7 separate regions of the Homo sapiens genome follow, and all the other regions are linked to region 2. The links come from fine-mapping of genetic effects on gene expression. A gene starts in region 2. Each other region holds a variant in brackets. All regions are shown on one strand. Distances are between the middles of the regions.

What was found. PIP is the estimated chance that this variant, and not a neighbour inherited with it, causes the effect.
Region 1: its variant is fine-mapped to the expression of RGMB in B cells (Fairfax 2012, PIP 0.95).
Region 3: its variant is fine-mapped to the expression of RGMB in whole blood (INTERVAL, PIP above 0.99).
Region 4: its variant is fine-mapped to the expression of RGMB in monocytes after LPS (Fairfax 2014, PIP 0.95).
Region 5: its variant is fine-mapped to the expression of RGMB in whole blood (INTERVAL, PIP above 0.99).
Region 6: its variant is fine-mapped to the expression of RGMB in whole blood (INTERVAL, PIP above 0.99).
Region 7: its variant is fine-mapped to the expression of RGMB in whole blood (INTERVAL, PIP above 0.99).

The regions. Positions count from the first base shown.
Region 1 is chr5:98,794,025-98,798,093 of GRCh38, reverse strand. RGMB (repulsive guidance molecule BMP co-receptor b) reads right to left here. Exons shown (of 3, transcript NM_001366508.1): 3 at 1,600-4,069. Among named protein-coding and RNA genes, the nearest start is that of RGMB, 22 kb to the right of the region's middle. The variant T/G (reference allele first, on the strand shown) is at 1,746.
Region 2 is chr5:98,771,687-98,775,755 of GRCh38, reverse strand. RGMB (repulsive guidance molecule BMP co-receptor b) reads right to left here and starts at 2,093. Exons shown (of 3, transcript NM_001366508.1): 1 at 1,550-2,093. The coding sequence starts at 1,685. It overlaps RGMB-AS1 (RGMB antisense RNA 1), which reads left to right and starts at 2,672. Exons shown (of 2, transcript NR_033932.1): 1 at 2,672-3,134. RefSeq lists enhancers at 857-976, 1,232-1,731, 2,467-2,516 and a silencer at 1,617-2,246.
Region 3 is chr5:98,663,730-98,667,798 of GRCh38, reverse strand. No RefSeq gene overlaps it. Among named protein-coding and RNA genes, the nearest start is that of RGMB-AS1, 110 kb to the left of the region's middle. The variant C/T (reference allele first, on the strand shown) is at 1,570.
Region 4 is chr5:98,698,231-98,702,299 of GRCh38, reverse strand. No RefSeq gene overlaps it. Among named protein-coding and RNA genes, the nearest start is that of RGMB-AS1, 73 kb to the left of the region's middle. The variant G/A (reference allele first, on the strand shown) is at 2,351.
Region 5 is chr5:98,503,943-98,508,011 of GRCh38, reverse strand. No RefSeq gene overlaps it. Among named protein-coding and RNA genes, the nearest start is that of RGMB-AS1, 270 kb to the left of the region's middle. The variant G/CTG (reference allele first, on the strand shown) is at 1,990.
Region 6 is chr5:98,876,375-98,880,443 of GRCh38, reverse strand. CHD1 (chromodomain helicase DNA binding protein 1) reads left to right here. Exons shown (of 36, transcript NM_001270.4): 23 at 716-892; 24 at 3,886-4,046. Among named protein-coding and RNA genes, the nearest start is that of CHD1-DT, 50 kb to the left of the region's middle. The variant T/C (reference allele first, on the strand shown) is at 1,599.
Region 7 is chr5:98,727,954-98,732,022 of GRCh38, reverse strand. No RefSeq gene overlaps it. Among named protein-coding and RNA genes, the nearest start is that of RGMB-AS1, 43 kb to the left of the region's middle. The variant T/C (reference allele first, on the strand shown) is at 2,488.

The DNA.
Region 1 (4,069 bases), 22 kb before region 2:
AGCCACTGTGCCCAGCCAAAGAGCAGTAAATTTAAAGGAAAATACCATCTAAATAATAACAATTGCTTTCATGTGACTTGTCCATTTGGAAGACATACAGAAAAGGGATAGAAGCAGAAAGAAACAATATGGTTTAGGTTTAGGTAACAATATGGTTAGGTAGTGAAATAATAAAGAACTTTGAAACTGCTCCTTGAACATCCTGATTACTTTCTCTGTGGGGGAGACATTGGTTCACATACAAATAGAACAGGGAGAAAATCTGCAGCAAGGTATCTTTGCTCAGAAAGGACAGCAGCAATCCAAGACTGTTATCCCAGCTAGTTCCAGACAATAGAATACTGCCAATGCTACAAAATTAAAAATAAACAAGATAAAAAATAAATCAGATAACAGGACTCTTAGGGTTGATGTCGCTGTTGGGATTTTGGAGTTGACGTTTCAGTCCCCAAAGAGCTGGAGTTCTGGGAATGAAGACAGAATGGTAAAGAATTATTTTTGACTTTAAGCATAAAAGTCAAATAGTCTATAGCACATTTCGTTCTGCTATAGATTATCTGCATTCTTTCAGCACAGACACATCACTGGGTACTCAGTGACTATGTCATTTCATCCTATTTTATGTGGTTCAGCTGATATGATTGTCTTTTTTTTTTTTTTTTTGCTCTGAACTGCTACATGTAAATAGTCAACTGCAATGGTTAAGCTTTTTTCTTTAAGAAACGATTATGGCCAGGTGTGGTGGCTCATGCCTGTAATCCCAGCACTTTGGGAGGCTGAAGCAGGCGGATTGCTTGAGTCCAGGAGTCTGAGACCAGCCTGGGCAACATGGTGAAACCCTGCCTTCAGTCTCTACAAAAAATACAAAAATTAGCTGGGGATGGTAGCATGCACTTGTAGCCCCAGCGACTCGGGGGGATCACTTGAACCCTGGAAGTTGAGGCTGTAGTGAGCTGAGACTGCACCACTGCACTCTGGCCTGGGTGACAGAGTGAGACCCTGTCTCCAAAAGAAAAAAAAAAAAAAAGAAGAAATGATTACATGTATGTTTATCCCAGTCAGAATCTGATCCATTTAGTATTCTACCTAATACAAGTAACAGTGCTTCTCTGTGCCTTTTGTTTCAGTTATTTTCCTAACTTTTCTACCCTTTGGTGTGTTTCTTGAACAAAGACCAACTTGTGATCTCTTGATGTCTCTTTTTAAAACCCAAGAAGTGAGGATTTGTTTTCAAAGCCAGAAAATCCTGCCTTCCCAAATCCTCCCCACCAGGAGGAAGTCGTTACTGTTCACATCACCTTAAAAAGAACTAGAGTGCAGGCTGTATGTCTTCAAGGGACCAAAACTGTTACTAAAGACAGAACTTTGGGACAATACTAGTGGACCAATCTCACTGATACGGATTTGTAACTGCTTAAAATTTCAAAAGAAAAAAAATGACAGTAATGCTATAGTTTTGAAAATCAGCGAATTTGTGGGCAGGTGGCATGACTTATCAGTAACCTTTAGGGATTTTATACAATTCCCCCTCCCCCGACTCCCTTTCTTCTGCAGCTCTCAGTTCTTCCAGCAGGTGTCCCTATAATCACAGAACAGACATTCCACAGCAAGGTATGTAACTTTATTTTTCTAGCATAATAATTTAAAGTATTTACACACTGCACACTCACTGTTTTACACAGATACGTATTCATATATCTATGAACCACATCTAAAGGTTTCTTTGCAAAGACTCGACACACTGT[T/G]GGGGGGGGGGGAGCTTCCAAGCATAACAAAGAGGACAAAAAAAAGTTTTGAGTCTTTTAAAGACAGCCATGTGGAGCATCTGTGAAAACCAGTGTTTCCCCCGTTTTAAGCTCCCCCAGGAGACCTCTGAACAGCTATAGCCTATCCACATGTTGGTATGACCTGAAATTCTTCTAGCTAAGGTTTCAAGAACCAACATGTGCAAGCAGCATTTTTTCTAGAAATCTCAAAAAAGGAGAAAATAAACCTGGCCCTTACGTAGAGAAATACATCTATTTCTGAAAGTAATCTGTGGGGATTGTTTTACAGGGACACCGATTACAAGGGCAGAATAGCAAAATACACTATTACTAGTGATGCAGGGTGCTTTTAAATGTCACTTCCAGCTAAATGATATGGCAAAATAACCCAATCTTCTTTTCCCAACTATCAGTAAGGGTGGTTGTTATTTTCCCTGAAAAGAGCAAAGGTATATTTATTAATGATACACACTCTAAACCCAGATCCTATAGAAATTTCTTCTATTGCTTTTACTTCACTTTCATATTATTTGCACAAAAATAGTGGTTATCCTCCGTATTTTTTCCTCGCTTGTACTACTCAATTATAAAACAAATTATTAACGATAGCTTCTGAATTTGGTACATGGCATCATAGGTGAACAAAAAAAGCCACAGTTCAGAGCTGATGGTCAGTCCGTCTCTAGTCCAGCTTCTATAAAAGGAAGGCGGGTTTAGGTTTCAACTCTCTATAGTTGAATCTCCATGAGTAAGAAGGAGATGCCTTCCTTATTTTCCCAGACTGCCCAAGATTATTCTCTCATCAACACAAGGTAGAGGTTTGCCACCTCTACATGAATTCACAACTCCACTCTGTGACTGGGTGGCACATCAGTTCGCTAAGAAGTTAAACTTTACAAAATGACGTCCTCTTCCTCTTGCCGGTATGGGCCTCTGGCAGTGTCACTGATCAATAGGACATGGCAAAAGTAACTACCTGGAGAACTAAAACTAAGCATAATCTTGGCCTGAACTACTACGGTAAAGATAGTATCTTTTATTTCTGTTTATGTAAACTTATCAACAAATTATTAAAGCAGAAACTCTATCACTTCTTGGAACTAAAGATTTACATCTAGCTATAACAATAGAAACCTACCTATCCTGGAGTTAACTTTCTCAGATTACTGCTCCTGACTTTTGCTGTTCTTTTCCTTTTGCAAGGGGGTGCCAACAATGGATGGAAGAGGCAAGGAGATCTTACTTTATAGGAATTTCTCCAAGTTACAACGAGCAACTGACCAAATCATATTCAACTACAGGTGTTGAGAGAGAGAGTACCTGACTTCAGACCACCTGGGAAGCACAATGCTTAGTTAACAAGAATATCTGGATTAAGCAGTGCCGAAGTGGCCGCACACCGAGTCAGGCCAAGGAAGCTCTTCTGTCATTGCCGCCCAACTCTGTTCCACTTTGCATGCAGACATATCAAAGACTGTGATGAAGATCATGGTGGACAAGGAAGAATGAAAAACTTTGTGATGGGATCTGGGCCTCTACATTAGAGAAAGAACCTAACAAACCCCAGTTCTTTGGATTCGTAAGGTGAGGCTGAGGAGGGCTTACTGGAGTTGGAGACAGGGAGAGCTGTGTTTCTGGGCTCAAAGCCAAGAAACGGTTAAGAAGAGGGGCTTGCATCAGTCATATAGATTAAAAAGAGCAAGGCATGATAATTACTAAATTTATAGTTTCATGTTTTAACACAGAAGAGTCAGAGGGAAAACTGACAATTTAAAACGGGGCATGGGATGAGAAAAAGTCTAGGAGTTACTGAGATGCCTGGTACTTATCTACAAAACTTCCATCACTAGACCCTTTTGACCTACGAGAATAGCAGTTTCTATGGTTCAACCTAATACACTGTATGGGCTCAAATATATAACAATTAGAATTGAGAGTAATCAGAATACCAATAATACCCCCCCTTCTGAAAAAGTAACAGCTCTTAGATGAAGAGAGCTTCTTAAGATCAGCGTTTAAGAGTCAAAGCACCTGTAAGGGAGAGTTAACGACCCTTTCAAATCAAGTGAGGGCAGAAGGGTGAGGGCATAGTTCAAAGGAACGAGGCAGCTCCACCGGAAGGTGGCGAGTAAAAGCTGCACACCGTGGCAAATCAGTAGCAATGGGAAAGGGCAGGAAGGTACAGCCAAGAATAGCTACAAACAACTGGTCACCTTCAAAGGAAACGCTGCATATGGATGTCTGTGTATATGTACTATACATATCAACCAAGCACACACATAAATATTTAATATATAAAAAAT
Region 2 (4,069 bases):
CATTCCAAATTCTTGAACGAAGACACCCTACTTTTCTAAACCTTTAAGCCAACTTAGTATGCCTTTCACGGGCTAGCAAAGAAACCTTCAGGGACCACATTCCAATTCTGTCACAGGATCCTATGGCAACTATGGGAAACAATATCCAAGCAGCCAAGGGGGACACAATCCCACCTAGCACAATTTCCATTTCATGAAACTTACATTTTGGTATTATGGACACATATTTTTCGCACAAACACTCCTGAATATATCTTTTAACATGTCAAGAAAAATTTTCCACGTAACTACATGCAGATTGACACTATTTTCTAAGGTTCTTAGGTTACTAATTGAAAGCCGTAATCATCCTAAAACTTTCTATTACACTTTTTTATTAAGCCGTCTTTTCCCTAATTGTCGGTGTTAAAAAGCAGCTATTACATCATAATGCAAAGCTACGCAAAGTAAATTAAGTCTCCTCAGATGTCACATTTTCCCCCCCATTACTTAAAAGACCTCCCTGATTTTTAGCATGGCGGGTATGGTTTAATAAGTAAAAATTACTCCGCACAGTTGGGTGGCATCGAAGTTCAGGATTCTCCAGACCAGAACGTTGTGAAGTGTCTCATATATACAGGACAAAAAAGGTCTGGAAGGAAAAGAAACTTATCTAATGCTGTTTGTTCTCAAGACTAAAGGAAAATGACCCTTTCAACCTTAGCATTAAAAAAAATTCTTTGTCTAGGCAAATTCCTAGAAAAAAATAGTGTGAAGAGCGTCCTGGATTTTCATGAAACGATTTTTTAAAAAGAAAAATAGGTATCACATGGTAGAAGGCTCATTTGCAGGCTTACTTCCCTTGGAACATACGCCTCAAGGCTGGGGAAGCGCCGACCTCCAGAAGGCAGCATGGTTATCTGTCAACCCCTCACGGAGCCCGAAGACACCCGGCTAGTCACAAAACACGAGCTTTTCCCGGGAGGCTGATCGCTGAACAAACGCAGCTTTTGCCAAAACGAAAGAAATCCCTGCTCAAAAAAGTTGACGTTACTTCGAGATTAACTCCCAGGTTTGCAAAATCTGGTAAAAATCTTTCCATCTGGTGTACTTCCTTCGCCTCGCCGCCACCCCCAACTCCAGAAAAGCAGCACAAGGCTCCTTGTCTCCCTCCGAGGCGGCTGCGACGGCGGAAACCTGATCCGAGCCTGACTTTCAGTAAACACCAGCGCAGAGAGCAATAAAGCATCCGGAACATTTGTCTCGGGCGCGCGGCCCCCGCCCGCTAAATGTTTGATAAGCGGCTGTCGGAGGGGAGATTTGTCAGCGGTCCGAGCCGAAGGCGGGGAGGGTGGAGAGAAGGCTCGTCTCTGCGCCCGGCGGCCGCCCGGTGGGTGGCTGCGTTACTGTGGCCCGGAGCCCGACAGAGGTGCGTGTCAGGGGCTCGGGAGGCCTTTCCCGTTGCGCCACGCCGCCCTTCCGCCCCGGCGAGCGCCTTCGAGACCTGGGGCTATTTGGGAACAAAGCCCTAGGCCCCGGGGCTGGCTCCCCTCGCGCGCTCCCGTCCTACCTGCGTGGAGCAGCCCGAGGCTGAACAGCAGCAGCAGCAGCAGCTCCAGCGGCGGGGGGCAGAGCCCGGGGCTGCGGCGCTGCTCAACCTCGGCGGCGGCAGCGGCGGCGCTGGAAGGTGCTGCTCTCAAGCCCATGCCCGTCCATGCAGGTCTCGTGGGCTCCGGCGAGGGCGGCGGCGCGGGCGCCGTGGCGGGTCTGGGCCCGTGGCTGCGGCATGGGCCGGGGGGCGCGCTTCGCTTCCTCTTCTTCCTTCTTCAGGCCCGTGTAGCAGATGGGGCGCCACCACCGCCGCAGCAAGCAGCGCGCAGCCGGCGCAGCCAGTCCGCGGCGGCAGCAGCGGGGCGCAGGGGCATCGTGGCGGCCGGAGGCGGCAGGCAGGGAAAGGGGCGGAAGAGAAGACACAAAGACCGTGAGCGACTGCTGAGACGAGTCCCGAGCGCGCCGGCACCCCGGCCCCAGCCAGCGTGGGCTCGGCGGGCGTGGACCTCCAAGAGGCTGGCCCAGCCCTAGCGACCACCCACCGGCGGCCCGGATATCTCTGCGCGGCAGCCCCCGCGGTCGATCAATCTCAGTCCCGCACTGCCGTCCCGCCCCGCCCTGTGCCCGCCAATCCACGACGCCATAATCCCCCGCCGTGTCCCTCCCTTCCTCCCCATTGGTTGTGACCGCACGTCAGCCCGACTCAGCCTGCCAATCGCAGGACCCAGAGGGCCCTCTCCCCCGCCCGCTCAGTGTAATTCGAGTTCCCTGTCCATCGACTCCAAGTCCTCTCTCCTGCGCCGCATGCTGCCTCGCGCTCCCTTTCCTTCCCCCTCTACCCCCTTCCGCGATTTACTGTTTCCTCGCGCCCAACAGAAATGGGCGACCGCAAGTCTTACTCTCGCCGGCGTTACAAAGGTACCGGCCTTTGACCTCTCCTTGAATTAATGTGATCCGATTCATCTTCCCTCCAAGTTTTTTTTTTAATTTAATTACCCCTCCCTGCCCTGGCCCTGCCAGCTTCAGCTCCACCTCCTTGGAGGAAGCAGGCGCTTTTACAGAGCGCCGCGCGGCAGGTCCCCTTTCAGCCAATCACATCTGCGGAACCGCGTTCCGAGTCGTTTGAGGGTGTCTGGTAAAGCAAGCTCGGGGCGGTGTTGGAAATCTGAATGTCACCCGCGGTCCGGAGCAGATAGGATGGGCTGGGAAGGTACCCGCGAACTGCCGCCGGAATTCGCTGGCAGCTGTGCGAGGCTCAGGTGTTCTAGTTTGACATTTCCCTTCCTGAAAGCGGCAAGGAGAGGTCTAAGAGTGGGCAAACTTCAACGTTCGGTTACAGTGTAATTAATGAGAGTGGTGGGTTTTTATGCAGTGTAATTATGCCACGATTTGTTGTTGCTCAGTGGCTTTTTCACAAATTTCTACAGATTATTTAAATTTTCCACAAATTTCTACGGATTAATTCAATGGCAGCTCACTTTCTCCTTTTATGATCGGATGGGTCCGAAAGTGAGGAAAAAGACAATTGTCTACAAAGAAAGAGGCTGCCAAGTGGAGACAGAAAAGCAGTTATGAGACTGATGATAGATTCCAATTTGTTATCGGTAGGTGTGAAGTGGTATCTAATCTCAAGAATGACCTCAAGGCTGAGAGACACTTGATACCGCCCTCGCCTTTGCCTTTCCCCAAACAGCACAGGGTTGCCATTTAAAATCCACTAACATCCAAATCGTAGTTGGCAACTGTACCCGCTATGTTACTCAGAATCTCTAATTAGGAATTTCTTATCAACCACGGACATGCTGATATTCCACACATGTTTAAATGAGCTAATCAATGGACTAGGATAATTGAGGGGCAAACCTTCAGTCTCACCAGCTCACTTATTAGACACATTTTGAATTGCCCAAACCACTAGGTCCCTAATGAAGGATGCCTATCTGTTTTTACTGTAACTTTTCATTACTTACTTGTTACATACTATGATGACTTAAGGGGTAAACACACCTTTCACTATCCACAATATAATCCAAGCCTGTGTATATCCATAATACGCTTAATAATAGCTTCACAGTTGCCTGGAGAAATGACTTTTGGGGAGGAAGTTATATGACATTTTTAGATAATGCTGCGGACTAAGTATTATTAGAGCAAAAATTTACTATCTTGCAATTACTTCATATAATTAGATACAGTTCATGACATACTAAGAAGCATCTTAAAAAAGTAATCAAACATAATACTGATTTTCAAAGTATTTGGCTAACAAAGACTACATTTTTTTCTCTTAACCCAAGATTTAATTCGACCCCTATAAAAGCAGCATCTCACTTTATTGATCATACTTCAAAGCATATACTCAATAGTTAAGGATCAATAATTTCTGTTTGGTTTGGGTCTTTCCACTCGTGACTTTCTATGATTTTTTACTCCCCTCCCCCTATATCCTGTTCCATAAGTACACGGGTGCTCTAGATTTTCCTATCAATAGAGGGCGTCCTCGAGTCATTGCAAATCCTGGTGTCGTTAAACGGAACTG
Region 3 (4,069 bases), 110 kb after region 2:
GTTTTGCTGTATCCCATAGGTTTTGGTATGTTACGTTTCCATTATAATTTGTTTCAAGAAATTTTTTCAATTTCCTTGTTAATTTCTTCATTGACCCACTGGTCACTTAGAAGCACGTTGTTTAATTTCCATGTGTTTGCATAGTTTGCAAAATTCCTCTTGTATTGATTTCTGGTTTTATTCCATTGTGGTCAGGAAAAATGCCTGATATTATTTGAATTGTTTTGAATGTTTTAAGACTTGTTTTGTGACCTAACATGTGATCTATCCTTGAGAATGATCTATGTGCAAAGGAAAAGAATATGTATTCTGTAACCATTGTCTTAAATGTTCTGTAAATATCTGTTAGAGCCATTTGTTCTATAATGCAGATGGAATTCGATTTTTCCTTGTTGATTTTCAGTCTGAAAGGTCTTCCCAATGCTGAAAGGGAGGTGTTGAAGTCTCTAGCTATTATTAGTTTAGGTCTATATCTCTCTTTAGCTCTAATAATATTTGCTTTATGTATCTGAGTTCTCCAACATTAGGTGTATATATGTTTACAGTTGTTATATCCTCTTGCTGAATTGACCTTTTTATCATTATATAATGATCTTCTTTGTATCTTACAATTATTGTCTTGAAATCTGTTTTGTCTGGTATAAGAAGAGCTACTCCTGCTCTTTTTTGGTTTCCATTGCCATGGAATACCTTTTTCCATTCCTTTATTTTCAGTCTATGTGTATCTTTATAGGTGATATGTTTTACTTGTAGGCAATAGAACATTGGGTCTTGCTTTTTCATCCATTCAGCCCCTCGTGCCTTTCAATTGAAAAGTTAGCCCATTTGCATTCAATGTTGTTATTGATGAGCAAAGACTTATCCTGCCATTTTGTTATTTCTTTTTCTGGTTGTTTTATGGTCTTTTCTTCCTTCCTGTCTTTTTTTAGTAAAAGTGAATGTGGTGGTATAATTTAATTCCTTGCTTTTTAATTTTTTTTGTATTTGTTGTGTTTTTGATGTGAGGTTACTGTGAGGCTTGCAATTACTCTCTTATAACCCATTATTTAAAACTGATGACAACGCTGATTGCATAAACAAACAAACAAGCAAAAAGAAAACCAATAAAAATTCTACATTTTAACTTCATCCCCCTGCTTTTTAACTTTTTGTTGTTTCTCTTTATGTGTTATTCTACTGTCTTTGTCTTCGTCATAAAAAGTTGTTGTAGTTATTATTTTTGATTGGCTCATTGTTTAGCCTTTCTACTCAAAATAAATGTGGTTCACACAACACACGTACAGTGATATAATATTGTGTGTTTTCTGTGTGCCAGTGAGTTTTATACCTTTGGATGATTTCTTATTTCCAATTAATGTAATTTTCTTTCAGATTAAAGAACTGCCTTTAGCATTTCTTGTATGACAGGTCCAGTGTTGATAAAATTCCTCAGCTTTTGTTTGTGTTTCTCCGTCATGCTTGAAGGATATTTTCACCAGATATACTATTCTAGGTCTTTGAGGAATTGTCACACTGTCTTCCACAATGATTGAACTAATTTACATTCCCACCAACATTGTAAAAGTATAC[C/T]TATTTCTCCACAGCCTCGTCAGCACCTGTTGTTTCTTGACTTTTTATAATCACCATTCTGACTGGCATGAGATGATATTTCATTGTGGTTTTGATTTGCATTTCTCTAATGATCAGTGATGTTGAGCTTTTTTTTCATATGTTTGTTGGCTGCCTAAATGTCTTCTTTTGAGAAGGGTTTGATCATGTCCTTTGTTCACTTTTTAATGAGGTTGTTTGTTTTCTTCTTACAAGTTTGTTGAAGTTCTTTGTAGATTCTGGATACTAGACCTTTGTCAGATGGATAGATTGCAAAAATTTTCTCCCATTCTGTAGGTTGTTCACTCTGATGATAGTTTCTTTTGCTGTGCAGAAGCTCTTTAGTTTAATTAGATCCCATACGTCAATTTTTGCATTTGTTGCAATTGCTTTTGACATTTTTCATCATGAAATTTTGCCCATGTCTATGTCCTGAATGGTATTGCATAGATTTTCTTCTAGGGTTTTTATAGTTTTAGGTTTTACATTTAAGTCTTTAATTCATCTTGAGTTACTTTTTGGGTAAGGTGTAAGAAAGGGGTCCAGTTTCAATTTTCTGCATATGGCCATTCTCCCAGCATCATTTGTTAAATATGGAGTCTTTTCCCCATTGCTGTTTCTGTCAGGTTTGTTGAAGGTCAGATGGTTGTAGATGGGGGGTCTGATTTCTAAGTTCTCTACTCTGTTCCATTGGTGTTCCATTGTTCTATGTGTCTGTTTTTATACCAGTATGATGCTGTTTTAGTTACCACAGCCTTGCAGTATAGTTTGAAGTCAGATAGCATGATGTCTCCAGCTTTGTCCTTTTTCCTTAGGATTGTCTTGGCTATATGGGCTCTCTTTTGGTTCCATATGAACTTAAAAGTAGTTTTGTCTAATTTTGTGAAGAATGTCAATGGTATTTAATGAGAACAGCATTGAATCTATAAATTACTCTGGGCAGTATGACCATTTTCACGATATTGATTCTTCTTATTCATGAGCATGGAATTTTTTTTATTTGTTTTTTGTCCTCTCTGATTTCCTTGAGCAGTGGTTTCATCCCAGAGGGGCACTGACCTGATGCCAGCAGGAACAGTCCTGTATAATGTTTTTGGTGACCCCTGTTGGGGAGTCTCACCCAGCTGGGAGGCACAGGATCAGGAACCTGCTTAACAAAGCACTCTGGCTGCCTCTTTGTGAAAGGGTGTGCTGTGCTGGGGGGAATCCCATTCATCTGGACTGCCCAGATTCCTCAGAGTCAAGAAGGGAAAAGACCAAGTTCGCTGATCCATGGAGACTGTGGCCACCCTTGCCCCCAGGGGCTCCATCCCAGGGAGATCAGCATTCTCTTTGTAAACCCCTGGATGGGGTTGCTGAAATTCCCACAGGGAGGCTCTACCTGGTGAGGAGCGATGAGTACGGGTCTGGCCTAAAGAGACAGTCTCTCCATGATCTGCCACAGCCGCTGTGCTGCATTGTGGGGAATTCCTCTTTGGTCCAAACCACCCAGTCTCCCCATTACCAGCAGGTGAGAATGGTAGACTGGAGCTTCAGTGATAGTAGCCATCCCTCCCTCTGGGAGCTCAGTCATCTTAGGCAGCAGGCAGCAGGCAGCTGCAGTGATAGTGGCTGCCCTTCCCTCCAGGAACTCGGTAGTCTTAGGCAGTCTCCAGCTAAGCAGCCACTGAGAATCTTCACAGCTCTGTGGGCTTACAAGGGGATCTCCTGATTTGTGGGTTGCATGGATGCATGGAAAAAGTGTGGTTTCCCAGGTGGGGTAGCACAATCACTCACTACCTCCCTTGGCTGGGAGTGGGAGCTCCCCTTGCACTGTGCAGCTCCTGGGTGTGCTGTTACTCCGCCCTGCTTTTCCTCACTCTCCATGGGTCTTGCCAACTGCAAAGTCAGTCTCAGTGAGAGAACCTGGATACCTTAGTTGCTGCAGGATTCATTCACTGTTTTCATTCTTCTTGGTAGGCACCTCTGACCATAGCTGTTTCTAGTCAGCCATCTTGGCCCCTCCTTTTCCTGGATGGTCTTGATGTTTGTAGATGTTCATCAGTGTCTGGGCATCATTAAAGAGTTAGGCATTTATTGTCGTTTTGCAATCTGGGCTTGCATTTTTAGGAAGGCTTTCCAGGTATTTGAAGGAACTTGGCCCATCCAACAATGCTGTGGTTCTTAGAAACTTGTAGAAATACTGCCTTAGTAGTCTTGAATAAGATCTAGATGAGTTCTCTGAATTACCAGGTAGATACTCTTGTTTTTTTCCTTTACTTTCTCCCCAAAAAACAGAGTGTCTTTCTTTCTCTCTCTCTCTCTCTCTCTGTTCTGAGCTGCCTGGAACTAGGTGTGGGTAGACTCAGGCATTCCTGTGGCCACAACCACCAGGACTGTGCTGATTTAGACCTGAAGCCAGTACAGCACTGGATGTCATCCATGGCCTGCTGTAACCACTACATGGCTACCACCTATGTTCACTCAAGGCCTTAGGGCTCTA
Region 4 (4,069 bases), 73 kb after region 2:
ATCTGATTGGTTTTCCTTTATAGGTTACCTGATGCTTTTGCCTCACAGCTCTTAAAATTCTTTCCTTTGTCTTGACTTTAGATAACCTGATGACTATGTGCCTAGGTGATGATCTTTTTGTGATGAATTTCCCAGGTGTTCTTTGAGCTTCTTGTATTTGGAGGTCTAGATCTCTAGCAAGACCAGGGAAGTTTTCATCGATTATTCCCTCAAATATATTTTCCAAACTTTTAGATTTCTCTTCTTCCTCGGGAACACCAATTATTCTTAGATTTGGTTGTTTAACATGATCCCAAACTCATTGGAGGCTTTGTTCATTTTTTAAAATTCTTTTTTCTTTGTCTTTGTGGCATTGGGTTAATTTTAAAGTCTTGTCTTTGAGCTCTGAAGTCCTTTCTTCTACTTGTTTGATCCTATTGCTGAGACTTTCCAGTGCACTTTCCAATACAATTCTTTGTGTCCTTTATTTCTAAAAGTTGTGATTGTTTTTTATTTATGCTATCTATTTCACTGGAGATTTTTCCATTTATATCCTGTATCATTTTTTTAAAAATTTCTTTAGGTTGAACTTCACCTTTCTTTGGTGCCTCCTTGATTGGCTTAATAGTCGACCTTCTGAATTCTTTTTCTGGCAATTCAGAGGTTTCTTGGTTTGGATCTATTGCTGGTGAATTAGTGTGATCTTTTAGGGGAGTTAAGTAGCTAGATTTGTCATATTACTAGAATTGTTTTTCTGGTTCCTTATCATTTGGGTAGACTTTGTCAGAGGGAAGATCTGGGGCTCCAAAGCTGCTGTTCAGATTCTTTTGTCCCATGGGTGTTCCTTTGATGTGGTGCTCTCCCATTCCCTCTAGGGATGGGGCTTCCTGAGGGCCAAACTGCAGAGATTGTTATTTCTTTTCTGGATCTGGCCACTCAGTGGAGCTATGGGGCTCCAGACTGGTACTGGGCAGTGTCTGCAAGATGTCCTGTGATATGATTCATCTTCAGGTCTCTCAGTCATGGATACCAGCCCCTGCTTCAATGAAGGTAGCAGGGGAGTGAAGCAGACTCTGTGAGGGTCCTTGGTTGCATTTTTGTTAAGTGTGCTGATTTTGTGTTGGTTGGCCTCCAGCTAGGAGGTGGCATTTTCAAGAGTACATCAGCTGTGGTAGTATAGGGAGAATCAGGTGGTGGGTGGGGCCATAGAGCCCCCAAGAGATTATGTCCCTTGTCTTCAGCTACCAGGGCAGGTAGAGAAAGACCATGAGGTGTGAGCAGGGTTAGGTGAGCTCAGACTCGCCTTGGGTATAGGCTCTCCTGCAGCTGCTGTGGGGAATGGAGGTGTGGTTACCAGGCTAACTGAGTCATGTTCTCAGGGGGATCATGGCTGCCTCTGTTGTGTCACACGGGTTTCCAAGGAAGTGGGGGAAAGTTGGCAGCCACAGGCCTCACCCAGCCCCCATACAGCCCACAGCCTGACATGTTGGTCTCACTCCCACCACACACCACCAGCAGCACCAAGTTTATTTCCAGGAAGCCAGTGAGCATGGCTGAGAACTTTCCCCAGGCTGCAAGCTTCCCAGCTGGGAAAGCAAGCAGGCTTGCAATTCTTTGGTTGTCCCATAGGCCTGAAGAAGCAATCTGCCTCCTTCAAAGGGTCTGTGGATTCTCTTGGCTTTCCTGGTATGTTTCTGCAGTAGTTCTTGGAGCAAAAGTTCATGATGTGGTCTCCACATGCTGCTGTGTCTGTCAGAGTGGGAGCTGCAAGTTAGTCCTGCCTCCTATTCACCATTTTCCCCTTCAAAACCAAACAACAACAACAATCTGCATTTTATTGCTTACGAAGAATGTACTTTTTGGGAGTTAGTTTTAGAAAAAGGCTTTAGGCATTTTACACATTTAAATAAAGGCCATGTAACAATAACACAAGTGTTTAAAGTGCTAATACTGGTGGTATGGTGGCTCACACCTGTAATCCCAGCACTTTGGGAGGCCGAGGCAGGCATATCACAAGGTCAGGAGATCGAGACCATCCTATCTAACATGGTGAAACCCCCTCTCTACTAAAAATACAAAAAAAAAAAAAATTAGCTGGGAATGGTGGCACACATCTTTAGTCCCAGCTACTCGGGAGGCTGAGGCAGGAGAATCACTTGAACCTGGGAGGCAGAGATTGCAGTGAGCCGAGATTGTGCCACTGCACTCCAGCCTGGGAAACTGAGCAAGACATCTCAAAAAAAAAAAAAAAAAAACAGTGCTAATACTTCATTCATTTTGATCAATCCTTTGAGATATGGAAAAGCAGACATTATTACCTAGGGTTGCTTAGGAGATATCTCTTTCTATATATCTCACCTACAGGGACAGG[G/A]ACCTTCCTGATCAATCTTTTTCTACAAATTGAGGTTTGTCAGCTTGTCTTCAGGCATTGGGCAAGTTGGAATTTTGGGGAGAAACAAAATGGTTGGCTTGAGTGTCTTGATTTCATTTCACTGGCCAAATAATGTCTTTTTGCTAACTGCTGAAAATAACTTTTGATATGTATACTCATTTATGTTTTGGCAAACCATGATTAAGATCTTGAAATACCCTCACTTTAATATATTATGCCACTATGTTTTCTGAATTAGAATTCTAAGGGTGAATTACTCTCAGATGTTGTACTGAAAGAGTTAGAGTTTCTTTGGTTATATCTTCCATTCATGGAGGTTTACGATCAAAGGATTTTGGAGGAGAGAGAACCTTAGATATCTTCTATGCAATAAACTTTTGCCCATATAGTTATCCCTTTCGCTGTCTCATGTGTATACAGTCTCCCAATTTTTGAGAAAACATGACAGTCTCATTGCTTAGCCTATGAAATCCACTTCTCCATGTACAACACAATATTGGCAAAGCTTATAATTTATTCTCATCCAAAGAACAAGATATTTTGGTGGCACCCTAATGAAAGCTTGCTACAGTCACTTTGGCTGCTCTGTGGTGATTATAAATCAAAGGTAGTACAGGTAAGAGATGGTATTTGGAAATGATCATGTTATTAAACAATTTAAGTCCCTTAAATGTCAATATGCTTTAATATACCATATTTTGAGAACATAATTGTAATGCAAAACTGGTATTTCAAAGAAAAGACAAAGAAATTAAATAATTATAGTTTTTTTGCTTAAATTTACAAATCAAAGTCAGTTGATGTTTATGCATATATTCCAAGTTTATTTATTTACTATCTTTAGTGCTTGGCAATCAATAGAGACTATCAGTGGTCAAGAATTGCATGCAGACAAAATAAAAACAAAAATGTGAACATCAGTGTCTTCCTTTTTTCTTTACTCATCCTTTAACCACTGTTTCTTAGAATGTTATCTCAGAACCCACCTTCATTTGAATTGTTAAAATTTAGAGTCTTGGCACCCATCAGAACAATGTAATTGTAGTGTCTGGGTTGTGGCCATTTATTTTCAAGTCCTACATATGATTGTTCTGCCTTAATAATTGTTAATATTCCTTCCAATGGTCTCCTACTTGCTTCCTCCTGGCAGTGAATCTACCTTAATCTTAACTGCTTCCTTCAAGTACTTTATTAAAGCCATCTTTACATTAAAAATAAAGATTCTTAATGTACTGGTATATAGTTACAGACTTCACTTATCCTAGGCAGCCAAACTGCAACTTGCTGATAGTAACTTGCTGATAATAAAGGAATGAGCAATATTGTGAAAGATTCTGTACAGTCATTCCCTACTTACAAAAAACTAATTCAGAGGTAATGCCTGGTCTTGAATCAGTGGCATCATCTTTGCAAATAAAAGAATAGCTCATTAATGATTAATTTTCATGCTGTCATGAATGGAACAGAGTGGTTTCCAAATAACACTCTGCTCTCTCTCTGAACCTTGGCTATATTATTCTTCCAGTAGAATTTGCTTACACTTCATTTCTGGTCATCAGTCAAGTCAGTTACAGAAGTAGTCAAGACAGGAGAGGTGGAGTGCAAAATTAGGGAATAATAAATGCTAAGTTTCAAGTGACAGGACCTAATGTCTTTCCTGTTGATCTTTTTTTCAATAAAGAAAGAATCAGGAGGAGG
Region 5 (4,069 bases), 270 kb after region 2:
GGCAATAGGAACAAAACAACCTTGGCTGTTGTCATTCTGGTTACTCGTTCAATCAAAGGTAACCAATAATTGAATCTATAAGTGATTGCCAAAATATGCAGCTTTTGATGATGCTGTTATTTAAAGAAAGGTATCAAAATAATTAATTCTGTGATCAGAGAAATGAGCACAACCAATGGATCTAGAATTTGATGTTCAACCTGTTGAAATGCCAGAAACAACTTCATAAGGGGTTTTTACTTATTTTATTTCTTTATTTATACTTTTTTTTGTAACTTTTATTTTAAGTTCCAGGGTACATGTGCAGGATGCGCAGGTTTGTTACAGAGGTAAATGTGCGTCATGGTGGTTTGCTGCACATATCATCCCATCACTTAGGTATTAAGTCCAGCGTCCATTAACCATTCTTCCTGATGCTCCCCCTCCCCCAACACCACCAATAGGCCCCAGTGTATGTTATTCCCCTCCATGTGTCCATGTGTTCTCATTGTCCAGCTCCCACTTATAAGTGAGAAATGTGGTGTTTGGTTTTCTGTTCCTGTGTTAGTTTGCTGAGGATAATGGCTTCCAGCTCCATCCATGTCCTTGTAAAAGACATGATCTCATTCCTTTTTATGGCTGCATAGTATTCCATGGTGTATATAGATCACATTTTCTTTATACAGTCTATATTGATGGGCATTTAGGTTAATTCTATGTCTTTGCTATTGTGAATAGTGCAGCAATTAACATACACATGCATGTATCTTTATAATAGAAGGTTTTATATTCCTTTGTGTATATACCCAGCAATGGGATTGCTGGGTCAAATGGTATTTCTGCCTCTAGATCTTTGAGGAATCACCACACTGTCTTCCACAATGGTTGAACTAATTTACACTCCTGCCAACAGTGTAGAAGCATTCCTTTTTCTCCACAAAAGATTATACCATGAAATCATAATGTTAGTTTATCATCTCAGGGAATCTTTAGTGAGTTCTTTGCTATGTTTTGTTGCATTGATGTTCTTAAAATGTGTCATTAAGAAGATAGGAAAGGTGTTCATAATTGTAAAGTAAAATGAGGAGAGTGAGGCCTGCCACATAAGTGACATCTTCTCCCATCCCATGCAATTATTTTCCCTTGGTATCAGTGGAGACCTGTGTTCTGATTAAGAATGCCAAATTTCCAAACTTGTCTAATCTCATGTGAAAAAGGATGTTTTTAAAATGAGTTGAGCTGTGGGAACAATTCTCTCAGCACTTTCAAGAAGAGATATTGATTTTTTCCTTCATATTATTTTTCAGATTTCTTCCCTCTTTTCCATTCTTACTATCAGCCCTGAAGGCCAAATCTTCATCACTTAACTTGCTAGAAAAATAGTTCTCAATCTTGGCAGCACAATAAAATCTCTCTGGGAGCTTTAAAAAATATTGACATCTGAGTTGGAATCTCAGAGATTCTGATGTAATTGGTCTGGGATGGGTTCTGAGTGTTGAGATATTGAAAGAGGCCCTGGTGATTCTAAAGTGTGGCTAAGGAATGGAACCAATGACCATGAGCTCTCCTCTGCCCAGTCCATCCTGCAAACCACTCACTTAGTTTTAACTTGATAGCCATTATAATAACTGGCTCTTCCTTGGTCTTACTACAGTCTTACTAAAAGTACATCTCACCTCCATTTTTCTCATTTTTATTTTCTGTTTTAGTATAGACATTTAATCTTAAATGTTTGGAAATAGGAGTCAAATAGATGATAAATTTAATGAAATGCCAACGCTAGATAAATATTTTCCCAACGATGCTTCAATCATTTTACTCATTCAAAAATTCTTTAAACTTCCCTATTGCTAAGTTCCAAAACTCTTTGATCTAGCATTTAATATTTTTGAAAAATTTTAAAGCTCATTTTATTTTTCAGATTTACCTAGACCACTGCTGCTCTTTCTGTATCCCATGCTTTACTAAAATGAACTACTTGCTCTTCCCTGCAACGTGCCTCACGGTACC[G/CTG]TCTCTGTGCCTCTTCTTTTACTTTTCCGTCTACTGAGAATGCCTTGAACCAGCTCCAACTCCTTAAATATAAACCATCTCTAATATGCCAATTAATATGCCACTTTCCTTAATCAAACTTTTCAGTTTTGATGAAAATGGGGGTACTTCCTCCTTTATTTCAACTCCTTAAAACTCTTCTCCTTCTACATTTTATGCTTACTCTATGATGACTTATCTATTTTATTCTTTTCTCTTCCTTTCTTCCACTCTACTGAAAGATCCTCAAGGGCCAAATCCAAGGCTATTTCCTTTGGAGAAGGCTGTTTTAGAGTCACATTCTGTTTTTGTGTCCCGATTTTACCTTTACAAGATATGTGAATTATTCTTGTCTCTGGGTTTTGCTTTCTTATATTTTAAATGGGGAATTAATATCATGTTGTTCATAGAGTTACGGGGCAAATTAAATGAGTTATTCCATGGAATGTACTTAGAATAGTGCCCTGCACAAAGTGAGCACCTTCTAAATGTTAGCTATTTTTATTAGCTTGCTTTAACGGAGGCTAGGGTAATATCTTGTATATTTTAAGGAGTTAAAATATTTGTTAAACACAAAATTCTTTGGCACTTGGAAAGATTCCAAATGCCCAAACTATACATATTTTTAGCTTATAATCTTTAAATCATTTTTACAGCTACTTGAAGGAGCATGTGGGCCAAAGTGACCTGAAATTTTGTTTGAAAAAATGGAAAACATAATTTCTAACAGGTTTGGTATCTTGTGTTGAAAATCTTCAGTTCCATAGGTAGTGCTAGAGATTCACCTCTGTGAAATGCCCAAACCGTCAATTGTAGTGATTTATTGTGTGCTGATTTCCACAGGAATTAAAAAAATAGTTGAATATCCAGAAGCCATTGAAATTCTTTAGCTTAAAACAGGTATGTGCAAAGAAACTCAATAGGCGAATTATATATTCTGGGAACAAAATGTCTCTATATAGATTCCATTTAATAATATACACTTCACAGGTCTTTGGAGATAAGACTATAAATATGACTGTCAGATTTAAGCAATAAATATTTTAACACCAGCACATCTTAAACTCATATCCATTTATGTCTCCGATGTCATAAAATTGAATTGACATTTTGGTTTCCAAGACTGAAGAAAAGAATAAATAAAATGTTGTGTGACTGTACAATCAGTTATTGGGGGTTTTCCCCCTTCTATGTTGACTTTTGAAGTGTTTGAAGTGACTTTTTTGAAATTAATAATTAATCTCTTCAAGGTGTTCTTTTTGCAGTTGGTGAGGGCGGTCAATGTTAAGGGAAAACAGATAAGAACAGAGGACAAGTTCTGACTGACCAAGGCGGTGTGTTTGCAAGGGAATAAAACACTCCACAGATTGGACTGCTTGGTACTTGCCTCCTGGTTGTAAATATGGTCTTGTCTTCAGCCATTTCCCAGGAAACTTTGTCAAGGAATTAACTCTGGAGATATTTATGCAAATGAAGTATAATAGTGAAGGTTTGAAGTAACAGTTTACAGCTACTGAAAATGAGAGAGAGAGACAGAATACTAGAATTATGAAAGACTCTTCAGGGCAATGCTGAAGATAGTTTATCGTCTAAGTCACATATTGAGAACGGCACTTGGGAATTTATTACGTATTTTCAGTTTTTACATTTTCACCTGTTTCTGGCTTTCCAAACTATGTTTGTTCATAGAATTTATGGCTGGTATTTCATTCAAATCAATGGAAGATCAAGCATTTGTATTCTTGGAAGAAACTGTATTTCTTTATCATACCTCATGTAGAGCTTATTATGTTCCAGGCAATGTGCTCTAAGTTTTACATGTAATTACTAATTTAATCCTCACAACAACCCTATGAAATAGATGCTATTATTATCCCCATTTTATGCATGAAGTAATTGAGGCCCAGAAAGATTAAATACCTTGCTCAAGGCCACAGAACAGGTCAGGAATTGAAGTCACACTTTCTGATTCTGGAGGTCAGGCTTATATCCTCTAAGTTATGCTGCTTCAGAATGAAAGACACAGCAATCACAATAGGAATCAGAGCATGTTCTCACTGCA
Region 6 (4,069 bases), 100 kb before region 2:
CTACAGTGTACCCCACACAGTGAATAAAAAACTTTTATAATTTTAATGAATCATTCTGACTACTTTGTGGTTGATTGACTGTAGTGAGGAAAGAGCTATAGCAGGGGGAGATAAGACAGAATGTTGAGTAATCCTGGTTAAGAGGTGAAGGTTTCTGGAATCACAGGCGTGAGCCACTTCGCCCGGCTGTGATAGTTAGCCTTAATGGGTGCTTTCTGTATACCAGACCTTGCATAGTACCTTAAATGTGCTATCTTATGTAATCCTCACAGAAATTAGTGTGCTCTCAAAGAGCTCTATGTCTCTGCCAGTAGCTCTTTAGATAGTGTTTTTGTGACCATAAAAATGATATTAGATTGTTCTACAATACTTGATAGGTGGACTGGTCTGAGAATTTCTGCAGATTATTTAGCATGTTAATAGTATAAATTACTTTTTTGTTGTTCTGTTAACTGCTCTTAGTTCTGTGATGCTACTAATTTTGTTGAGCAGTAGGGCAAAATAAAATCATTCCTAGAGGATTATTAGATGTCATTTGGTTTGATCTGCTTTGCCCTAATGAAGAAATGAATCTAGGTTGTTTAGAAGTTATATTTGGTTTAGTCCACAGCCATGTTCATTATCCTAAGGAGCATGCCAGTTCTTCCCCTTAAAAAAAACTTTTAGGGATCAATTTTTCTGTAACAGTTACTCTTAAAATTCTGAAATTTATCAGGTTGCCAACTTCTCAAATATGGATGAGGATGACATTGAGTTGGAACCTGAAAGAAATTCAAAGAATTGGGAGGAAATTATTCCAGAAGATCAAAGAAGACGATTAGAAGAAGAAGAAAGACAAAAGGAACTTGAAGAAATTTATATGCTCCCAAGAATGAGAAATTGTGCAAAACAGGTGATTTTGCAATTTTAAAGATATTTCTATAAAGTAAGAGTATTCAACCTGGGCTGATTTTGTTTGTTTCTACGAGGTATCAGTCCATAGTTTTCTTTTCTTGTAATGGCCTTGATTTGATAATGTTTGCCTCATGAAATGAGTTGAGAAGTGTTTCTTCCTCTTTTATTCATCTTTTCAAAGAACCTGCTCCTGGTTTCATTGATTTTTGTGTGTGTGTGTGTTTTTAATTTCATGAGTTTCCACAATTTATTATTTCTTCCTTTCTGCTTTTGATTTAATTTGCTGTTTTCTTTCTTTTCTTTTCTTTTTTCTTTGGTGACAGCATCTTGCTCTATTGCCAAGGCTGGAGTGCAGTGGCACAATTCTGGCTCACTGCAACCTTAACCTCCCGGCCTCAGATGATCCTCCCACTTCAGCCTCCCAAATAGCTGGGACTACAGGTGTGTCCCACCACACCCAGCTGATTTTTGTATTCTTTTTGTAGAGATGGAGTTTTACCATGTTGTCCAGGCTGGTCTGGAACTTCTGGGCTTAAGTGATCCATCTGCCTTGGCCTACCAAAATGTTGGGACTATAGCACGAGCCACTGCACCTGGCCTCTTTTATTCAGTTTCTTAAGGTGCAAGCTTAGATATAGAAATGTAATCTCTCTTTTCTAATATCGGCATTTAATGCTACAAATTTTTCTTTAAGCGTTACTTTT[T/C]CTGAATCTTCCAAATCTATTTTTATATTTTCCTTAATTTAAAAACATTTTAAAATTTCCCATATGACTTATCTTTGACCCACAGGTTTTTTTAGAAGTATGTTTTAAAATGTTCAGATATTTAGGAAATTTTTCAACTATGTTTGTTAATCATTGGTAGTTTAATTCTGTCATGTTCAGAAAGCATATTTTATGTAATTTTAATTTTTAAAAATTTGTTGGTGTTTATTCAGTGGCCTAAGTAAACAAATACCAAAATTTTGAATAACTGTAATAGTGCCATGCCAAGCTATATTGCCAAAAAGGAAAAAAATTCTAAGACTAATTTCTTTTTCTAGTATCCTTTGGTTTTTAGGATATAAGATTTTTTGTCTTGATTGCTGAGTTTTTTCGTGCTTCCTTAAATTTTAAGCCTGGGGCAAATGAGGGGCTTGCCCCACTCTAGTCCCTGCCCTGCTACCATTCCCCGAAGGGTAGAGCTTTTTGTTTTTTCTTTTCTTGCAACCGTATTAGATCTTATTCTGTTCCCTCAGTTGAGCAGATGGGAAAGGTCTGGCAAGGCTTCCTTCCTGTTTCCACAAAGGTGACTGCTCACTTTCTCCAAGGCTGTACCATGGAGGAAAGTTTTCTCCAGTCTTCCTTCTCATGAGCACCTGGTGGAAGTTCGTGGCAAAGTGCTTGAGAGTGGGTGCAGGTCCTCCGAGTTTTGGCTGTTAGGTCCTGTGATCTCACAATAGCGTACACTCAGCCATTAGCAGATTTTAGCTGATCTCCTCTTACCTGCTTGTATGGTACTTGATTTCTGTCACCTGTGTTCTTCACAAATGAGCCACTGTTCAAGTCCTCTTTTTCTCTTTTTGTAATCTCCTGTATATCCTTACATTTAGATGTGTAGGTTGCCGTGTGATTTCATCTCTCTGATGTTAAACAGAAAAATTATGATTTTGTACATCAGATTTGTTGTTAGAGTAGGAGCAGTGCCCCTACCAAGTTTCTACATAACAGCCAGAAGTAGAGCCAAAAATAATGCTTTTGGCCTGAAAGTAACCATGCATGTTATTTCTTGTTTCTGTTTATTTCTCCAAACCCCTAAGTAGTTTTGTTTTAGAGTGTGTGAGAATGCAGCATTGCATTAGATCTTGTGAAAGGATCAAGGGAGGTTAGAAAAAAAAGGTCTAAATACCATTTTTTACTTCATTTAACTTTCAGCATATTAGAGGTTCGGAATATGTGCCAAGGCTTTGGAAAAACTCCCAAGACTTACAGAATATATGTTTTGATGTATCTTATTAAAATTAATGGATGTTACAAATAGCCTTTTATGTGGGTTCAACTGGCATTTTTTTCTTTCAAATATCTGATTTGTCTAGTTAGAATAGCAATATGTGGATATTAAGCAGAACGGAAAAAAAGACAGCTAATCAATCTGTTCATCCAGAGATAGGACTGATAACATTATCACAGTGTACATCATTCTAATTTTTAAAAATTCATTATCATTTGCCAAATTAAGTTGGAGTTGTATTAATTTGGAACTTTTTCTTCTTTTTGACAGTATGTCATGAATGTTAATTATTCTACAACCCCATTTTTAATGGTGTCTCAGCATTCTATCGTATAGATTTGTCTGGTCTCTCTTTGATGAATATTTAGATTATTTGCTTTTTGTTTTTGAGACAGGATCTCACTGTGTTGCTCAGGCTGAAATGCCATGGTATGGTCATGGCTCACTGCAGCCTCAGCTTCCTGGGGTCAAATGATCCTCCCACCTCAGCCTCTCATGTAGCTGGAACTACGGGTGCATGCTACAAAAATACCTGGCTAATATTTTAAATTTTTGGTAGAGACAAGGTCTCACTATGTTGCCTAAGCTGGTCTTGAACTCCTGGGCTCAAGTTATCTTCCTGCCTTGGCCTCCCAGTCATGCTGGGATTACAGGCATGAGCTGCTGCACTCAGCCACATTTTTCTTTTATGATGTAAATTACTTTATTGATCAATGTTTCTTCACAGTTCTGATCTCCTCAGGAAAAATGCCTAGAGGTTATGTTGCTGCGTCAGTAGAATAACTTTTGGAGGCTTTTGATATAATGTCTGATTACCTTTTAAATCAAAATATCCACCAGAGGTATATATTTTTCTCTGTTTGCTCTTTAATTTTGTTTATGGAATGTTTTTGATACATTTAATAACATTTTTAAGATTCCGACCATCTTTTATAATGGTTTTTGCTCTTAAGATACAAGCTGTTTTTACACTAAGGTTGGGTAAATATTTTCCAATTCCAGATTAGTTTCAATGGAAGTGAAGGGAGGCGCAGTAGAAGTAGGAGATACTCTGGATCTGATAGTGATTCCATCTCAGAAGGGAAAAGGCCAAAGAAACGTGGAAGACCACGGACTATTCCTCGGGAGAATATTAAAGGATTTAGTGATGCAGAAATTAGGCGGTAAGGTGTTATAAGACAATCGC
Region 7 (4,069 bases), 44 kb after region 2:
AAGGGAAAGCTCCAAGGAAGGATGCAAGATTTATGAAGTATCAGCATAAGAATAAGTAAGATGGCTCAGCACAAGACAATAGAATAGCAACTGCTTTTTAAATGTTAGAAATGAAGTGCCTAGTTTCTGCCACATGGGCCACTGTCAGAATGTAATAATCAATCAGAAGCATTTTTTCATCTCCTGAAGCTTTAAAAAGCTCAGCATTATAGGCAGCTAATTAGCAATCTGAATTTCTCTATCAGGTGTGGTAAGGAGATAACTTAATGATATTATCTGATGGAGCCATAATCCCTTGCTTGGCCTTCTTTTTCTCTAAGGAATGACTGCCTTTAATTTTCAGTTCCAGAATTAGAAAAGCACTCTGTGATCAGCTAATAGACATATATTAGCTCTACCATTAGAGAGCTTGATTTTACAAACTTGGTCTCACTAGCACTATGGTTGATTTGAATAAATGAAATGTAGAACCTAATACTATTGTCTTGTACATGATGAGAATGCAATACATATTTATTGATATTAATGGAATTGAAAAAGACAGTCTCATGGATAAAAAAAATTACCTACTTTTCTTTATTTATCACCATTTGGATTATTAGATACTAGAGTGGGTGGACAATGAAAGGCATTAGCTACATGAGCAGGTTGGATACTAATTGATTTAGAACTTCTACTGTAGATTTTGAGGCTATTTTCAGTAACATAACTGTATGATTCCATTTTATATATATCTCTATAAGTAAACTTAGGGATAAAGATTGGTATAAAATATACAAAGAAATAAGTGATTAACTCCTTTACCTTATTGCTTACCTAACTCTTTTTTTACCATATAGTAACACAAAACTAAAAACTCCTAAATATGTTGTTTCTAGCTCAGGCCATGGGATTTTGTTTATTTTTAAGGATTTTGGCTGGAATGTGTCAAAACTAACTGGACCAAGGGTCCTGGGGGTGTTAACAAATAGTAAAATACATGCTTTGACTTGGTTAGACATCGCTTAGAACATTAATCATGCTCATATCATTTGGCTAAACTGTCTACCTCCCTGTTTTATTTCAATTTCCGTTCAGTTGTCAATACAGAGAAAAAATCTTGCAGTACCATTTATTTTCTACTTGTCTGGCATTTCTTAGTATATTCTGTTTTGTCTTTGAAAGATAAATGCACAAATTTTCAATAATTTAAAAGAATAGAAAAACTTCCATGGCCCAATTCTATACTTCCCTATGTGACCTAGAAAGAGGGCAAGCCCATTAATGTGGGATTTGATTTCCTAACAAAAGCTCTGCACTTATCAAAGCAGATACCTGCAAGCAGTCCATTTTCTCATATGGTAGGCATGTCTCCTGTTTTATGATCCTCACAAACAAATGGCAAGAATAGTTTAATTTTCTTACTTATACTAAGATATGCTCTATCTTTTTTGATCATTCCTAGCCGTGTCTTAGGTTTTTTTTTTTTCGTTTTGTTTTGTTTTTTTCTGAGAACAGGGCCCCTGTTGCCCAGGCTAGAATGCAGTGGTGCAATCTTGGCTCACTGCAGCTTCGACGTCCTGGTCATCAATCCTCCTACCTCAGCCTCCCAAGTAGCTAGGATTACAGGCATGCACCACCACCCACAGCTAATTTTTATATTTTTAGTAGAGGCAGGGTTTTCACTATGTTGCCCAGGCTAGTCTTGAACTCCTGAGCTCAAGCAATCCACCTGCCTTGGCCTCCAAAAGCGCTGGGATTACAGGCATGCACCACTGTGCTCCATTGACTCATCGTTTTAATTATCTACAAACGGATGAAGATCAGGAAAATGGAGAGAACCAACATGCTGCATTATTGAGTACTTATCATGTGACAGATTAGCTGTTAGAATATTCTAAACACACAGTCATTTTTTATCCTCCTCGCAACCTAGAGAAGTAGACACTCCTCACATTTTACAAAGAATGGTTGAAAGAAAATGACATGGTTAATAAGTGGAAAAGGTTGCTAAATCTGGATTCAAAGCCAAATCAGAAGCATGACATCAAGAGGGGCTAGGAAGGAACCAGAGGGCACAACAAGTGCTAAGTTCTTTTGGAAATTTTGGTCACCCCTTTTGCAGAATCAGACGTGTAGCATGATTATTTGTGTCCTTATTCTTTTTGCTGCACTAATTTCCCTCTCACAACAGAGGTAATTTTTGTTCTTTTAAAACTAATGTTTTTAAAGCTATTGACCTAGAATTGTCATCACATTTTTCCTGCTTCAAATGTTCTGAGTAGTAACAGAAATAGATTCTCCATCATTTTACTGCTAACCAGTTTGACTGTTCAAACAAAGGGAAGGAACCAACTCATGAATAGTAACATATGGGCTGGGCATGGTGGCTCATGCCTGTAATCCCAACACCTTGGGAGGCTGAGGCAGGAGGATCATTTGAGGACAGAAGTTCGAGACCTGCCTGGACAAAATAGTGAGTCCACATCTCTACAAATTGTAATAATA[T/C]AACAAAATATAAGTGAGAAATACTTTATCTGTTTTTATTTATTTATTTTTTTGAGACAGTCTTTTTCTGTCGCCCAGGCTGGAGTGCAGTGGCACTATCTTGGCTAATTGCAACCTCTGGCTCTCAGGCTCAAGTGATTCTCATGCCTCAGCCTCCCGAGTAGCTGGGACTATAGGTGTGCACCACCACACCTGGCCAATTTTTGTATTTTTGGGAGAGGTGGGGTTTTGCCATGTTGATCAGACTAGTTTCAAACTCCTGACCTCAAGTGATTCATCTGTCTTGGCCTCCCAAAGTGCTGGAATTACAGGTTTGAGCCACTGTGCCTGGCTGAGACTTTTTAAAAGTATTATATGTTGTGTTATACTTGCCTCCAGGTTGAAAACTCTCTCTGTAAAATACAGATGGGTTGGATATCTCCACTCTGGAATAGAAGTAGCCCATATGAGGAGGCAGGAGTCTAAAAACATAAAAAAAACGCTGAGAGAGTAAATAAGAACATTGAACATAATGGATAAGTAGAAAAAGCTTAAGGCCCTTGGATTCAAGAGAGGGAAAGGGATGCAAAGAAGTAGAAAATCCCCCACTGAACATTTTTCTCAAGACATGCTAGAAAAAAGAGAGGCAAGCATAGAGAGCTCTTCTAAGTGTGGAGCCATTTCCTTAGCCAAGGTTAGAGTGGTCATGAAGAGAACAGTTTTGACCTGGAAATAGGGATTACATTAGAAGAATCCAAATATATAGGACGTCCCCCTCAAGGAAAAAATTCACTTTTTATTTTTTTTAGTCCTCTAGTGAAGGATTAGGGGACAAAGTAAATGAAGTTTTAGATAATTATGAAAGTCAGATTGTTGTGTTAACTATGATAAATGGAAGTAACTTGAGAGTGGGTACTTATGAATTACACAACTTTACTCTGATATTACCATAATGTAATAAAAAGGGGTGTGTCCTACAAATGACTGTATAGATTCTCTTTTGAAAAGGGCGCTGTTGGGGAGGGGATGTAAAAGAGAAAACCATGAAACAAAGGCAAGAGAACTACCATGTTCTTTTAAATAGTGGTGTAGAAATTTTATAAAATCATAAACAAATTTTAACTGGAAGAAACCTTAGAATAATGATAATAATTATAGTTATTAGCTAGTGGCCACTTACTGTGTGCCAGGAACTATTATAAAAGTTTTTCATGCATTACCTAATTTAATCTTTGTAACAACACTTTTTAATAGAGATGATTATTAGTCTTCATTTTATAGGCGAAGAAATTGTGCCACACAAGGTAAGTAATTTTCCCAAGGTCACACTACAGAAGTAAGAAGCTGAGATGTGAACTCCAGCAGCGTGGCTCCACAGTCCATTTCTTAACCACTCAAGGAAATATGGGGTCAAGTTCACACTTAGATATGGTATCATTTAGGGGAACAGTAATTGCTGTGGCTATGAAACTTCAAAAATATAGAATAGCTTAAACACAATATGTTTGTATTTGTTCATATAACAACCCTGTGTGAACAACTGGGATCGTCGGACTCTCTGGCAAGGGTTCTGACATCTTCAACAGATGAGGCAAGGAAATTA